Linked DNA regions of Homo sapiens: region 2 is linked to region 1. Evidence: fine-mapped expression QTL. Tissue or cell type: whole blood. Region 1 holds a variant in brackets; the other region holds the start of a gene. All regions are shown on one strand. Distances are from middle to middle.

Region 1 (8,186 bases):
TCCTAACACCATTTACTTGGACAAAATTCAACAGCCCTTCAAGCTAAAAACTCTCAAGAAACTAGGTATTGATGGAACGTATCTCAAAATAAATAAATAGCTCTTAAGCTGTGTATGACAAACCCACAGCCAATATCATACTGAATGGGCAAAAGATGGAAGCATTCCCTTTGAAAACCAGCACAGGACAAGGATGCCCTCTCTCACCACTCCTATTGAACATAGTATTGGAAGTTCTGGCCCGGGCACTCAGACAAGAGAAATAAATACAGTGTATTCAGTTAGGAAAAGGGGAAGTCAAATTGTCTCTGTTGCAGATGACGTGATCGATATTTGGAAAACCCCATCATCTCATCCCAAAATCTCCTTAAGCTGATAAGCAACTTCAGCAAAGTCTCAGGATACAAAATCAATGTGCAAAAATCACAAGCATTCCAATAAACCAAGAACAGACAAACAGAGAGCCAAATCATGCGTGAACTGCCATTCACAATTGCTACAAAGACAATAAAATACCTAGGAATACAACTTAAAAGGGATGTGAAGGTCCTCGTCAAGAACTACAAACCGCTGCTCAAGGAAGTAAGAGAGGACACAAACAAATGGAAAAACATTCCATGCTCATGGATAGGAAGAATCAATATAGTGAAAATGGCCATACTGCCCAAAGTAATTTATAGATTCAGTGCTATCCTCATCAAGCTACCATTGACTTTCTTCACAGAATTGGAAAAAAATACTTTAAATTTCGTATGGAACCAAAAAAGAGCCCACATAGCCAAGACAATCCTAAGCAAAATGAACAAAACTGGAAGCATCACACTGCCTGACTTCAAACTATACTACAAGGCTACAGTAACAAAAACAGCATGGTACTGATACTAAAACAGATATATAGACCAGTGGAACTGAACAGAGGCCTCAGAAATAACACCACACATCTACAACCATCCAAATATCTATTTTTATAAGTTACCAATTTTTTAAGGAACGGCACTTTCCTGTCATTGCCTTCAGTTGTAGAAGTTGTTTATTAGGGATATGATTATATGAAGGACATGGAGCAACATATTGGACATCTCTCCAAAGCGGTTTTATAAACAACAGGTGCTGGAGAGGATGTGGAGAAATAGGAACACTTTTACACTGTTGGTGGGACTGTAAACTAGTTCAACCATTGTGGAAGTCAGTGTGACGATTCCTCAGGGTTCTAGAACTAGAAATACCATTTGACTCAGCCATCCCATTACTGGGTATATAACCAAAGGACTATAAATCATGCTGCTATAAAGACACATGCACACATATGTTTATTGTGGCACTATTCACAATAGCAAAGACTTGGAACCAACCCAAATGTCCAACAATGATAGACTGGATTAAGAAAATGTGGCACATATACACCATGGAATACTATGCAGCCATAAAAAATGATGAGTTCATGTCCTTTGTAGGGACATGGATGAAACTGGAAACCATCATTCTCAGCAAACTATCGCAAGGACAAAAAACCAAACACTACATGTTCTCACTCATAGGTGGGAATTGAACAATGAGAACACGTGGACACAGGAAGGGGAACATCACACTCCAGGGACTGTTGTGGGGTGGGGGGAGTGGGGAGGGACAGCATTAGGAGATATACCTAATGTTAAATGATGAGTTAGTGGGTGCAGCACACCAACATGGCACATATATACATATGTAACAAACCTGCACATTGTGCACATGTACCCTAAAACTGAAAGTGTAATAATAATAAAATAAAAAAAATAAAGCATGTAGAATCTCTTTTCATATCTTTTACCTGGGTCATAATTTAGTTGATCTTTTAAAAGAGAAAGTCCGTAAACTATGTGTGATCTCAAAGTTAGTGTAAAAAATGAGGTGTCTAGTTGCCATCTTCCATCTGTTTTTCCTGGCAGGGGGGTCTGCTCTTAGACGCAGCTGAGAGGTGGTAGGTGGCAGCTCTAACTGCCATTAAGGAGAGAAGTGAAGATGTGATGACTGTATCTTCTGCTGAAAAATCAGTTTTGTGATCATTATAGTTTATTGGTCTTTGATCTCGAAGAATCTGATGCCTAACGTTTAATGAGTTATGAAGAATATGTCATGGGATTATAAAAGTACCTCTTGCCAGGAGTTCATTGCCAGCGTGGCCAACATGGTGAAACCCTGTCTTTACTAAAAATCCAAAAAAAATAGCTGGGCGTGGTGGTGGGTGCCTATAATCCCAGCTACTCGGGAGGCTGAGGGAGGAGAATCACTTGAACCCGGGAGGTGGAGGTTGCAGTGAGCCGAGATTGCGCCATTGCACTCCAGCCTGGGCAACAAGAGTGAAACTCTGTCTCAAAAAAAAAAAAAAACTTCTTGCTGTAAGATAATTTTGAATGAGAAAAATCACAGTTTATGTTCTTGTGTACTATCTTTTAATAATACCTTCAGCTGTTGAATTATATATTTGTTTAACTTGAGAATACCACGCATGTATCCTTAGATTAGTTCATAGAAAATTGTGTGGAAAATGACTAGTAACTTTTATGACTTTGTTACCCATATTAGCTTTAAATAATTATTGGCCTTATATAAGCATTAGACTATTTCATTCATGTAGATTTCTTTTTTTGTTGTGTCTGTATACTGGATTTATTATTGTTATTACCCTTTTCCTCATAATCTTAGGAACTTTTGTAAGACAGAAATAAAATGATTAATTCATATATGTAAGCCTCATTAAACATATGTTACATTGGAAAAGCACCCTTAAAAGAAGTTGTGTCCAATTATATCTTCCTCAGGGGATTTACGTAGTTCATCACATCTACAGTCTGTCCTGTGTGTAGCATCTCTCATTACCCACAGGAATTTAAACTAGTCATTGGCTTTAAAAAGAAATGAAAGTTTTCCTGTAAGGAAATACATTGGCTTGCTTTATTATTATTTTTTATATTTTTGGATAAAGGAGAAGCCAGAGGCTTGGCTACAACCATTACATTAGATTAGAGTTTCTGAATATTGTGGAATTAATTATTAAGATATAGTTTTTATTTCACTTGACCCTTCAGGATTTCACAAGCAAGTTCTTGTGTAAGTGATACAGAGAAACTCCTTATTGTTTTTTAAACTCATAGTGCCATTGAACAGCCATGCTGATATTTCAGAATACAATAGAGTCTCTGAAACTGTGAACATTAAAACAAAAAGTAAACAACAGTATAGCATGGTTATTTTGAAAACTGTTAGGTAGCATTCTGCTTTAATAATGGAAATAATTTTTTCTGTTCTGAGTTTTATGATATTACTTAATTTTATTGTTTATAACTTTTGAAATTTTTGAAATTATTGTCACCAGCTTTCCCAACTAGTTTGAGAAGTTAATGTAATTAGTTTTAGTTCCTTGAGATAAAATTGTTATACCTTTAAATTATTGTTTGTAGATTTTCTCACTTTTAATTTACAGGAAAAAAATTCTGCAGGCTTCTTTTGCTTCTCACTGTTGCCCAAACTTTTTTTCTCTCCTGAAGTTGTGTTGTACATATAGAGATAACTCATAGTTTTCAATAAACATAGTATTGAGTTTCATGCAATGGAGTTGAAGATAAATCACTATGTAGATAGCTGAGGTGATGACGAGAGGTACCATATATAACTGACATGCTTACCAGTGTAGTCTCACTCTTCTGATCTCTCCACAGTACTCTTATGTGAAATCACCTCAGCATTGAAATCTGTGGTTTGACTTGTTTCTTTGGTGATTTTCTCTTTTTTCTGGGGAGTGTAATATTCTTTAACTTTACTTTTACTTTGAAGTTGACCGTGCTGACAGAACTCCTGAAATCTGAATTCAGAATACCAGAATCAACTCAAAGGACTTTATCTATAACTAAATCTATTTAATTATTGCTTTTTGTACCAGAGGGATAACTTAGGAGTGGCATATAG[G/A]TATAAATGTATACTCTTTTTAAATTTCAAAATTAATATTAGTGTTCCAAAGACATTTTTATGATGTATACTCATTCTTCCATATTTTTCTGTCTTAATTTTCTGTTACCAGCTAATAAGGCAGTGGATTTTACAACAGTCAAATTCTTGCTTCAGGATTCTAGAAGTTTGTTACATGCTTTCAGTACAAGGTCAAATTATGATGGTATTCTTCCACAGACCTTTGCTCAAGTAAACAACCTCCTTCAGACATTTGCAGAGGTAAGATGCCTTTGGAATGCCAGTTAGAGTAGCTAATTATACATGTTCTGAAAATGTGTTTAGCAGACAACAGTAGGTAAAGGATAATTTAATTCTAACTTATTCTAACATACTAAAGGCGTTAAGTAAATGTTAAGTGAATTGAATACAGAGTAAGCAACTCTAACAAGTTATAAAACCCATACCTCCTTTTATGGAAGCAGTGTCACAGCAGTTGTTCTTATTTTATATTATTTTCACTTATGGATGGAAGAAAGCTATGCATGCTATTTGACTGTTCATTTACAGTGCCCTAGGCCAGTGGATCTCACATACATCAAAAATACCTAGGAAATTGTTTTAAACATACAGATGTCAACACTGTCTGAAACCCTATTGAATCTATTTTTTGACAGTGTTACTTGGTAATGTTGTTGTCCTTGTTTTACTTTTTATTTTGAAATAATTTCAAACTTATAAAATGGTTACAAGAGCAGTACAAAGAATTCCCATATATATTATTTACCCTGATTCTCCAAATGTTAATATTTTGTCACATTTGCTTTATTGTTTTCTTTCTCTACCTACCCACCTGTCTGTCTGTCCATCTATCTACCTATCTATATTTTTTTCTGAGCTATTTGATAGTATGTTGCAGATAGGATGCCCTTTTTCCCCCAGGTGCTCTTTTTCCCCAAGATATTTCCATATGTATTTTCTAAAAATAGGGATATCCTATGTAACTACAATATAATTAATCATGAAATTAACATTGATACAATAGTTATCTGTGAACCTTATCCAAACTTTGCCAATTTGTGAAGTTTTTAACAAGTTTCATGTGATTCTTATGCAGCCATCTTAGCTGATGCCTTTTTATCTCTTTTAAACTTAACTCTCTAATTTTTGTACCCAGTAATACAGACTTATTTTTTTGACACAGGGTTTTACTCTGTCACCCTGGCACGATCAGGGCTCACTGCAACCTCCACCTACTGGGCTTAAGTGATTCTTCCACGTCAGCCCCCCGAATAGCTGGGTCTACAGGCATGGCACCACCACACCTGGCTAATTGTTCATATTTTTAGTAGAGGCAGAGTTATGCCCTAATACCTAGGCTAGTCTTGACTCCTGGACTCAAGCAATCCTCCTGCCTCAGCCTCCCAAAGTGTTGGGAATACAGGTGTGAGGTACTGTGCCTGGCCTCTAATTTCAAGTCTAGAAAAATCTGAGAGTTTTATGTAGCATAAACAGCTCAAAAAACCTCAGTTATCACTATTACTAAAAGAGATATTAATGGAACTTTTATCCAGTATAGATATTATGTTCTCTTTTTTCTCTGAGGAACTGAATTGTCCAGGTTTTTCTCATTGATTTTTCATAGTCAGATAGGTCCCCTGCCTATGAAGTAATCAAAGGATTAGATGATACTAACATTAATCATAGTTGATGAGGAAAGCACTTCCTTGCTAAGAGAATACTTACTTCATGGAGTAAAGGAAGCAGCTTTTTAAATAAACTGAGTGGAAATATGTGATCATTCTTGAGGAAAGAATTTATTTAAGGGGTGATATGATCTTTTGGTTTGAGATGACCAAAACATTGGTAGTTTTATTTTTTTAATGGCAAGCGTGATTTTTAGAACTATTAGTAGGAAAAAATGGGCCTAGGGATTTAGAGGGTTATAGCATGAGTATTGTACCTTGATTGTGTTGGAAAAGATGTGTTCTCCTTTCCCGTCACAAAATTGAGTCCTAAATCATATCCTTAGTGAATAAAATGTGGTGAACAGATGGAAAGTGCAAGATACTTAAAGTCTTAACAGTCTTTTAATTAAGATTATTGAGAATAAAACAAAATTTAGGATTCATTGAAATAAAAACAATAATGTGTAGTTTTTAATCCTCTTCATCGATAAAAACCTACAGATGGGAGGTACCATGAAAATATGATGTTAAAATTTTGTATTGTTTGTCAGATAATGATATGCCTACTACGTATATGTTGCCCATTGCATACTTAAAAGTATTGACTTGACTGGGCATGGTGGTTCATGCCTGTAATCCCAGCACTTTGGGAGGCTGAGTTGGGTGGATCACCTAAGGGCAGCAGTTCAGGACCAGCCTGGCCAACATGGCAAAACCCTGTCTCTACTAAAAATACAAAAATTAGCCAGGCATGGTGGCACACACCTGTAGTCCCAGCTACTTGGGAGGATGAGGCAGGAGAATTACCTGAACCCAGGAGGCAGAGGTTGCAGTGAGCTGAGATCGTGCCACTGCACTCCAGCCTGGGAGACAGAGCAAGACTCCATTTCAAAAAAAAAAAAAAGAAAAGAAAAGAAAAAAACCAGTGACTTGTTAATAAATTATTTATTTCTGGTTCTTAAGTTTCATTTGCTACGTTAGCAAGAGATTCATGAAGGCGAGTAGCAAAGAATCTAGCATCCTAATAGTGCTTTCCCCTCAACACTTGGCTTTAGTGTGATTACTTGAAACCATCCACGCTGTTTCCAGGATTAGAACTCTGAAGTGTTGCACCTTTATTTTTGTGTTAGAAACAATTCATTGAGTAAACGAAGAACTTTATGATTTAGTATAGTCCTTTAAAACAGGGGTCCACAACCCCTGGGCCATGACTGGTATTGGCATAGCAGGAGGTGAGCAGCGAGCAAGCAAGCAAAACTTAATCTGTATTTACAGTTGCTCCCCATCACTCACATTACTGTCTGAGCCCCACCTTTTGTCAGATCAGCAGTGGGATTAGATTCTTATAGGAGCATGAACCCTATTGTGAACTGTGCATACAAGGGATCTGGGTTGCATGTTCCTTATGAGAATCTAATGCCTGATGATCTGTCACTGTCTCCCATCATCCCAGATGGGACTGTAAGGTCAGGGCTCCCACTGATTCTACATTATGGTGAGTTGTATATTCCTTCCCTCCCTCCCTCTTTCCCTCCCTCCCTTCCTCCCTTCCTCTCTAGAGTTCTCTGTTGTTGCCCAGGCTGGAGTACAATGGCACGATCCCAGCTTATTGCAACCTCCACCTCCCAGGTTCAAGTGATTCTCCTGCCTCAGCCTCCCAAGTAGCTGGGATTACAGGCACGTCCTACCACACCTGGCTAATTTTTGTATTTTTAGTAGAGACAGGGTTTCACCATGTTGGCCAGGCTGGTCTGGAACTCCTGCCCTCAGGTGATCCACCCACCTTGGCCTCCCAAAGTTCTGGGATTACAGACATGAGCCACTGCACCCAGCCAATTATTTCATTATATATTACAATGTAATTATAATAGAAATAAAGTGCACAATAAATGGACTGTGTTTGAATCATCCTGAAACCATCCTCCCGCTTACCCGTCCATGGAAAAATTATCTTCCACAAAACTAGTCCCAGTTGCCAAAAAGGTTGGGGACTGATGCTTTAAAATATACTTTTAACAGGAGTTGTTTTATAGAATGTATTAGATTTGATATATGTCTTATATATTTGGTCATGTCTCAGTAACTTGAGCAACAAATAGATTACCTCCAAAGATATGGTATCTCCTAGTAACTGTAAAAACTACCTAATCTTAATTTATTAAGTGTAGAAAATCAGGAAGAGAGGAATATTCATTATTTGATTGCTTTGAGAAACTAAAATGGAGATAAACTAACTTTATCATTTTCCAGATTTTTTTTTGGGAGACAGGGTCTCGCTTTGTAGCCCAGACCTGAGTGCAGAGTTGTGATCATAGCTCATAGCTCTCTGTGACCTTGACCTCGTGTCAAATGATCCTCCAGCCTCAGCCTCCTGAATAGCTGGAACCACAGGCATGTGCCACAATGCTGAGCTAATTTTTAAATTTTTTTGTACAGACTAGGTCTCACTTTGTTGCCCAGGTTGGTCTTGAACTCCTGGCCTCAAGCAATCCTCCCGCCACAGCCTCCTAAAGTGCTAGGATTACACGCATGAACCGTCATGCCCTGCCTTTTCCAGATTTTCATGTAAGAGGGGAG
Region 2 (8,186 bases), 57 kb before region 1:
CTAAGAAAAAAAGTGTGAAAAATAAGAGAAAAAGCCAAGACCCAGTCTTACCTAGTTATGACTGATTTCAAACAACCAACTAGGCTATGTAAAATTAATTTTAAAATGTGATTTATATTTTAATTCTAATGCATTTCAAATTTCTCAATCATTACATATTTGTCCCACTAATGCATTTTCAGGTTTCTCAAGCATTACACACTCTTCAAATTAAATTAAATTTGGAAATACATGAATAAGTCTAAAATAAGTTTAACATGTTCTGACTGGGGTGGGTAGGGGATACATTCCCTACCTGTTGCTGAACCCGCTACTGATTATTATAGATAGATATAATCTGGTAGTGAGGTATGAGAGATGTAGATATTTATAAGAAAAATTAAGTAGAAGGAATCAGGAATGTAGATTCAGAAAGAATAAATGGTAAGGGGAATCAAGGTAATGCAGAAGCCAAGGGAGAAGAGTCTATAAACGCAAAACGTTCAACACTGAATATCACAAACAGTTGTAGAGATCAAGAAAGCACATCTGGTGACCTTTAAGAAAACAGGTTCAGGGAGGTGTTTCAGAGTAGAAACAGAATTGGAAGGGGAAAGGAAATACAGAAAATTAGGTTTTTCTTTTTTTGAGAAGTTTGACGGTATAAAAAAGGAAATGAATCAGACTGTAACTTGCTTTTTTTTAAGTATGGGGAACCTGAATATATGTGCATTCCAAGAGAAAGGAACAATTACAAAGTGGGGACTGAATATATATTAAGATTAGGAGAAACTGATATGTAAAGAGCCCAAGGAGACAGGAGATGGTGGGATAAACCACAGGGCTCTCTAATATTATGTTATTAGGTTATACAATTTAAAACCTTGAGACTTTAAAATTCAATTCTTGATATTAGCACCTTCTTGACTACTCCTCTCCGAGCTTCACTATCAGTTCGTTTACCCATTTGTATAATTTGTGTCCTTGTTCGCTTTCCCCACAAATAATCAACAGAAGACAAGGCCTATTTCTTGTTCATCTTTCTGATGGCTAAGTGCCTAATGCAGTAGCTTGCAGATAGGAGGCACTAAAGTTTGTTAAACAAGAAGTTAAAAAAATTGTTAGACTTTTTGGATGCAGTAGCACACTGTGTCAATAATTTTGGAATCCAATTCAGCACTATCAGACACTCCTGCTCAAATTTATTAAAAGGTAATTTTTCATATTATTATTATTTAAAGATGGGTCTTGCTCTGTCACCCAGCCTCCATGGAATGTAGTGGCTCAATCATAGCTCACTGCAGCCTCAAACTCCTGGGCTCAAGCAATCCTCCTGCCTCAGCCTCCTGAGTAGCTGGGAGTATAGGCTGGTGCCTGGTTATTCACCTCATTTTTAAAGAAGCAACAAACAATATTGGTTAATTTCCTATATCAGATACTGGTCAAATGAGTTATAATGAGATATAATTTCTATAAACAGGTAAAACTTCTTCATGTTTCATAAAAATCTTTTGCTAGGTCAGACAGCAATATTCCAGAAATGAATCCATGTGTACAAACTAACCTATCTAATTTGTAACCATAAAGGCTTTTGGTTCCAGAGTTCAAAGATCTGTGTATGTAAAACAAGATAAACAGCAATCAATAAAGACGTGCCTATTGAAATTATTCTATTAAATAGCACAAAATAAGAGAAAGGAGCTTGGTTAAGTTAGAAAACTAAAAATCCTGTGGTCTACTACTGAAGAAACTCTTGAAGATCTGTTTAAAAATGCATGATATGCCTATAAACATCTCTGAAATCACCTTCTGGTTTAAGATAGTGCGTATCAGACAATCTGTATGCAAAATACTCAATCTGCTTTTTGTAACACACTATTAATCCAGAAGTCAACAGGCAAACTTCTTGTTAAATTAGATGTCTCCAAGATGCTAGGAGGGTCTTTTACAACTTATTCTATTACTTTTTCCTCAATTTTCAATTCTATTTCAGATAGGCTATCTTCATCTTACCTAGTTATGACTGATTTCAAAGGACTAACTAGATCAACTAAAAATAATGTTTAAAATGTGATTAATATATGTATTAGTTCTAATGCATTTCAGACTTCTCAATCATTACATATTTGTCCTACTAATGCATTTTCAGTTTCCCATATAGTATACCTTCTTCAAATTACATATTTGTAAATTTTGGAATATATAGATAAGTCTTTTCTATGTTTAACATATTTTTGATGGTGAGGAGGTAGAGAATGCATGCATTTCCCAAAGCTGCTGAACCACTTCTGACTAATATAAACAAATACAACTTCGAAGTGAGGTAGGAGGCTACTTAGGAGGGTGGAACCCTCTCAGCTCCCCATGCCTCCCCGATCCCTACCCACTGTAGTTGAAGAAACAACTGGCCTTATTTTGTACCTACAAGCTCTGATCTTATATAATGAGAAGGGGCTTACCTGAAGCATTCTGACTTTTGTCTTTCCTGTGATTAGCCCTACTCTGAAATCTATAACAATTTGTATGTTGTTTCAAAACTGCAAAATAATCCTATCTATAACTATCTAACCTTTTATAAATATTAAACTCAAAACTGGCCTAGAAGTAGAAAAAATAATGAATTAAAGATTATTTTAAGTTCCAATTCAGAAAGCACATAAAGGTCAACTTATGACCACAAACTAAATGTTAAAAGAACTTAAATTATGTCTTTCTTAGACCTTACATTTTAAAATGTTAGAAGATCCTTAAGAAAGTGTTACTCATCAGTCTTTTAAATTCCTATATGGTCCAATAAACCACCACTTAGAAAACATGCAGGCACATTCAGAAGCACAATAATATGGGCCATTAATTCTCAACAGTCTATTTCTGATGGAATGGAGTACAAAACTCAATTGGTATTTATGTATGGGGGAAAACATCCGTAAATTTAGTCGACTCTTTCCTAAACTACTACTCAGCCTCAAAATCTTTTCGGAGGCAAGCTGCTAGCGGGGGAAAAGAAAACTGAAATGAGAAAAACTCATCTCCTTGTGGCTGTCGAAGCAGAAAAGCTAGTTGACAGTAATGGTTTAGAAATGTTGGCAGCTAGGATCTACTACCGTAAACAGGTTGCCTCGGTTACTATGTCACATTTGAAAGAACTTAGTTAACCATGGCAGACTGGACTGCGGGAAACTACCAAATTATGTGTAACTTCCTATTTTTGTACCTTAAAAAGACTCCCTTTTAAGAAAAAGCCCTTAACCTCATTATTTCCTTCTATCTGCAGCATTCCTGCTCTCCGCATATCCCTCACCGTGACATCCTCGAGGCTTATGAAGATGCCGTCTCCCATTCTGTAACCCTGCTTTAGCCGCTACACGGGCCCCTCTTTCCTCCCCACCATTTTCCTAAACCTGCCTTGCCCCATAAAAACCATCCCGGTGAAGGGCCTCCCCTACTTCCCAGCAAGGCGCACTTTCTCTCTTCTGCAGCAGAAAGATCTGGGCCTTCTGCACTTACTGCTTTTAGCCTCCTCAGGGGCAGAGGCTAGGGACGGGGACAGGGCCGGAGCCTGGGCCAGGGCAGGGGCTGGGGCTGGAGCCGAGGCCGGAGTCGGAGCCGAGTCCAGAGCCGAATCCGGGGCCGGAGCTGGGACCCCAGCCGAGTCCCGGGCCGGGGTCGGGACCTGGACCTGGGCCACCTCCACCTCCTCCTTCTCCAGGGGCAGCAGCTCCTCCTCCGCCATATTCTCCATAGTTACCGCCTCCGTGCCAAGCCCGCCCGGGGACCCGGAGCGGGGCTCACGGCGGGGTCAGAGAACTGACGTGAATGCCCACAGGGCTGGATCCAAGGAGTGGGGAAGCAAGTGGGGAGGGCGGGATGCGTGCAACAGACAAAAGATGAAGAACCAGTGACCAAATCCTGTTAGTAGAAAACAGAAAGCCAGAGGCAGCGATTCCAGATGCCCGTCCGCTTCCCTTTCCCCGAGGCGTTACGACGCCACCACAAACTGCGCAGAAGCGTACTGGGGACGGCGTCCAATTGGGTAAGAGGGTTCGGTTTCTACGGTGCGTCTCCGGCCCACCGGCCAACCACCAAACCGAACAAAGACTACAGCACCCAGGATACACTGCGCAGTCTGGGGGCGGGGCCGGAGTTCAAGCCTCGGAGGAAGTAAATGCAAATCTAAGCGAGCGCTGTGGGGCGGTGAGTAGGTAGTGCGGATGCGGGCGCAGAACTACGTTTCCCAGCAGGCATACAGTTGGTGGGGCGGGGTGTGTGTGTGTGTTGGGAGGCGGGGGTCCCTCTCCTTTGGCTTGGGGCTCCGGAGTTGCCACTGCCGCCGGCGCTGGTAAGGTAGGAACTGCGGGGTGCGTTGACGTTTTGCTGGGCAGGTTCCCCCTCGTCCCCCGCCCCAAGTATACTGGCGGGCGGGCGGCCGGCCGGACTGGGGACTCAGGAGTCACACGGACCTGGGCGGGGCGACTCTGTGGGCGGGTCCGGGGACGAGCCAGCTCCGTGGAGGGTGTGGTTCTGGCCCGGCTTGCCTCCGGGGCTGCCCCTTGCCCGGTGTTGGGGTCTGGTCGGTTCGTGCGGAGCCCGCGGGCCCGCGGCGGTTTACTAGCAGCTGACGAGCTTGCCTGTCCATCCAGCTGACTTGGAATTAGGGTCTGTTCTTCATTTCGCACCCTCACCTACACCGTGACCCGAACACTCTTTTCCTTTGTTTTTATTTTTGCTTTAGTCTTCATGTTGCCAGTATCAGCAGTTCTGCGGTGTGGCCAGTGGATAGAAATTAGTTGTTTTGCTCTATTTTGCTTTGTTTTCAGGCTTTTAATAACCAGAGCTCTGAGTGGGTAGAGCTTCGGGGCATTTAATTTTGATGCGTTTCAGATCCCCAAAACATATGCTAGCGAGTCCCCTGTCCCCCGTACTTCTCTCCCCTTCACTCTTAGTGCCTACTTGACATTCGAGCCTTTCTTGTTTCTTTCTTCTGTCCCCCCGCGATAAATCCACTGGGACAGAAAGGAGAAAAACGTGAACTTTCTGGCTGCCCTGCTTGGGCTTGGTCCGAACCTTCTAGGCATCAGGGCAGGAGAGGGAAGCCCAATTTAGTCTCAAGAACAAGACGCGCGCTTCCAGTTAGCTTTTCTTAGTTAATTAAGTTGATAAACGCCAATCTTCTTGGTCTATTTGTTTCCTACTTGTTTCAGAACCCCGGGGAAGAGATAGCATGATTATTTGGCACTTTGAAGCACTAACTGGAAATTAACTCCTCCCCCTATAGTTAAGAAGTATATATCTGGAGGGGTGTGTGTGTGTGTTTAACCTCTCCCCAGTTTAATGGGAACAGATTATCCCTGTGGAGCTTCTGTGAGTTATAGTCCTAAATCCCTTTTACTGATCGTCCCGTACAGCTTTTATCTAGTATTCCTGAATGTGTAGTTGACTCATGGCTCAACAGTCAATTAAAAATGGGATAACACTGACTATAACTTACAGAAATGCTAACTATATCTGTGCATCATCCAATAATTCTTGTTCTCATTTCTTTTTTTTTTTTTTACTGTCGTTCATGATGATTTTTTATTTCTAAATGACTAGATGGTTAACTGAAAGCTAGATTCAGTATGTTAATGTCATTTAACACCAGCTGGAAACCAGATTAAAAGGGTCAGATTTTAGTGTCTGGATTCTGTGGGAATTTTTGTAAGAATTTCTAAGCATGGTCTGTGCTTGTAAGACATCCTGAAGAAGGAATCGTCAATGTTTGAAGAATTAAATAATGTTATTCATCTATTGCTACTGCATAAGTTATACCAAAACATAGTAGCTTAAAACAACAGTAAACATTTATTACTCCACAGTTTCTGTGGGTCAGGAACTCAGAAATGACTTTCTGGGTTGATCTGGCTTTGGGTCTCCTGAGGTTGCAGTGAAGATATGTGCCAGGGCTGCTGTCATGTCACTTGATTAGGGGTGCAGGATCATCAGCTTCAAAGGTAACACACTCACATGCCTGGCTGTTAGTTGGTTCTGGTTGTTGGCAAGATGCCAGTAGTTCTTCCCTTGCGAGCCTTTCCATGGGCTGTTTGAGTGTCCTCATGACACTCTGACTTTCCCTAGAGTGAGCAGTCCAAGACAGAACAAGGCAGACGTCATGATATCTTATATGATTTAGCCACATACCACTATGTAGCAGTAATATCTTATTGATTACACAGGTCAGCCTTATTCATTGTGGTAGCAGATTACATTAAGTGCATGATTACCAAGCATCAGGAATCATCAGGAGCCATCTTGAAGACTGGCCAGCACATGAAGTCTCCCCTCATTTATGTTTTGATTTGCATAAAATCAATAGGAATTTCACACTAGTATGAATATACAACATTTGTCCGAATAAACATAAACATAAGTGTTTTTCTGGGATAGTCCACAATACTGTCATCCACTAACAGTATTGACTTGGTCCACAGCAGGGCTGGAAAAGTGAGACGGGGATGGGAGGTGGACAGAGGAACTACAGTGAGTGAATTGGAAGTGGTTCAGAATGAAAGAGTTAATATTCCAAGGAAGAAGAATTCACTCATTTATTCACTCAGTAGGCATTTATGAGCACCTAAGTTTTTAATACGGCACACTCAAGGAGCTCAGTGTCTAGTAGAAAGACAACCATACAAGCAAGTATGTATGTAGACATTACTGTGTACCAACCTATGCAAGATGTATATGTACATATATATATGTATTTTAATATTTTTTTATATTTTTTTAAATTTTTGAGATGGAGTTTCGCACTTGTCACCCAGGCTGGAGTGCAGTGGCACAATCTTACTCACTACAACCTCTGCCTCCCAGGTTCAAGCGATTCACCTCCCTCAGCCTCCTGAGTAGCTGGGATTACAGGCATGCACCACCACACCTGGTTAATTTTGTATTTTTAGTAGAGATGAGGTTTCATGATGTTGGCCATGCTGGTCTTGAACTCCTGACCTCAGGTGATCCGCCTGTCTCGGCCTCCCAAAGTATTGGGATTACAGTGAGCCGTGGTGCCCAGCCACAAGATATATTTTACATCCATTGTTTCAGTACCTCAAAAACCCTGTGGGATGGGTTATCTATTTTACAAGTAATGACACAAAGACTTAAAAAAAGCATGTGATTTGCCAAAGTCTTGTTCAATGAATGACTGAAGGTATTTTGGGAAAATGAAACTTATGACTAATTGGCTTTGAAGTGTGGGTGGTGAAGAATATAGCAGTCCTGGAGGCAGTTGAAAATGGTGATCTGATGCTTAAGTGAGAAGTCAGGGATCAAGGCATGGTTTGAGACTCATTCCTGGAAAGGTGATAGATGAAGCTGAAGGAGAGGAGTGGGTAATTTTGAAGGAGAATGAAAGTGAAGAAAAGTGGAATAATGAGAGAATCTTGTCATATTGGGAATGGTTAAAAAGTAGTAATCATAGTGCTGGGAGTGGTCACTCACACCTGTAATCCCAGCACTTTGGGAGGCGGGTGGATAACAAGGTCAGGAGGTCGAGACCAGCCTGACCAACATGGTGAAACCCTGTCTCTACTAAAAATACAAAAAATTAGCCGGGCATGGTGGCACATGCCTGTAATCTCAGCTGCTCAGGAGGCTGAGGCAGGAGAATTGCTTGAACCCGGTAGGCAGAGGTTGCAGTGAGCTGAGATCATCCCACTGCACTCCAGCCTGAGCGATGGAGCGAGACTCCATCTCAAAAAAAAATAAAATAAAATAAAAAGTGATCATATTGTAAAACTCCAATCTTTATATAACTGAAAGAAGACAAATTTCTATTTTCTTTTTGAGTGCAAAAACAAATCCTATATTTTTAATGTTTATGTTAGCTTTTCAGGATGTCCAGCAAAGAATCCTGTGGGAAAAAAGAGACATCTCAGAGGAAAGACACCACCACCTCATCACCCAATTTTGGTGAAAAAGTAAGAATTTTGATTTACTGACCTAGAGATACATTTCAATTTATTTTTGCTTAATGAAAAAAATACACCTTACTATTATAATGATTTATGTAAATATTTTGTTCTGCTCAGCCGATCCAGGAAAAGTCATTTGCTTTTCCGGTTTTTTACTTGCATTGTTTTATTTATTCCTCACAACTGTATGAGGTGGGTACTATTATTCCAATTACACAGATGAAGAAACTGAGGCTTAGAGAGTAGTTTTATAGAGGT

What was found. PIP is the estimated chance that this variant, and not a neighbour inherited with it, causes the effect.
Region 2: TRMT1L starts here. The variant in region 1 is fine-mapped to the expression of TRMT1L in whole blood (INTERVAL, PIP 0.99).

What each region holds. Positions count from the first base shown.
Region 1 is chr1:185,210,453-185,218,638 of GRCh38, forward strand. It overlaps SWT1 (SWT1 RNA endoribonuclease homolog), which reads left to right. Exons shown (of 19, transcript NM_017673.7): 14 at 4,055-4,203. Among named protein-coding and RNA genes, the nearest start is that of SWT1, 57 kb to the left of the region's middle. The variant G/A (reference allele first, on the strand shown) is at 3,943.
Region 2 is chr1:185,152,992-185,161,177 of GRCh38, forward strand. It overlaps TRMT1L (tRNA methyltransferase 1L), which reads right to left and starts at 3,962. Exons shown (of 15, transcript NM_030934.5): 1 at 3,487-3,962. The coding sequence starts at 3,721. It overlaps SWT1 (SWT1 RNA endoribonuclease homolog), which reads left to right and starts at 4,176. Exons shown (of 19, transcript NM_017673.7): 1 at 4,176-4,323; 2 at 7,842-7,934. The coding sequence starts at 7,851. RefSeq lists enhancers at 3,050-3,955, 3,799-3,908 and silencers at 3,459-3,708, 4,449-4,568.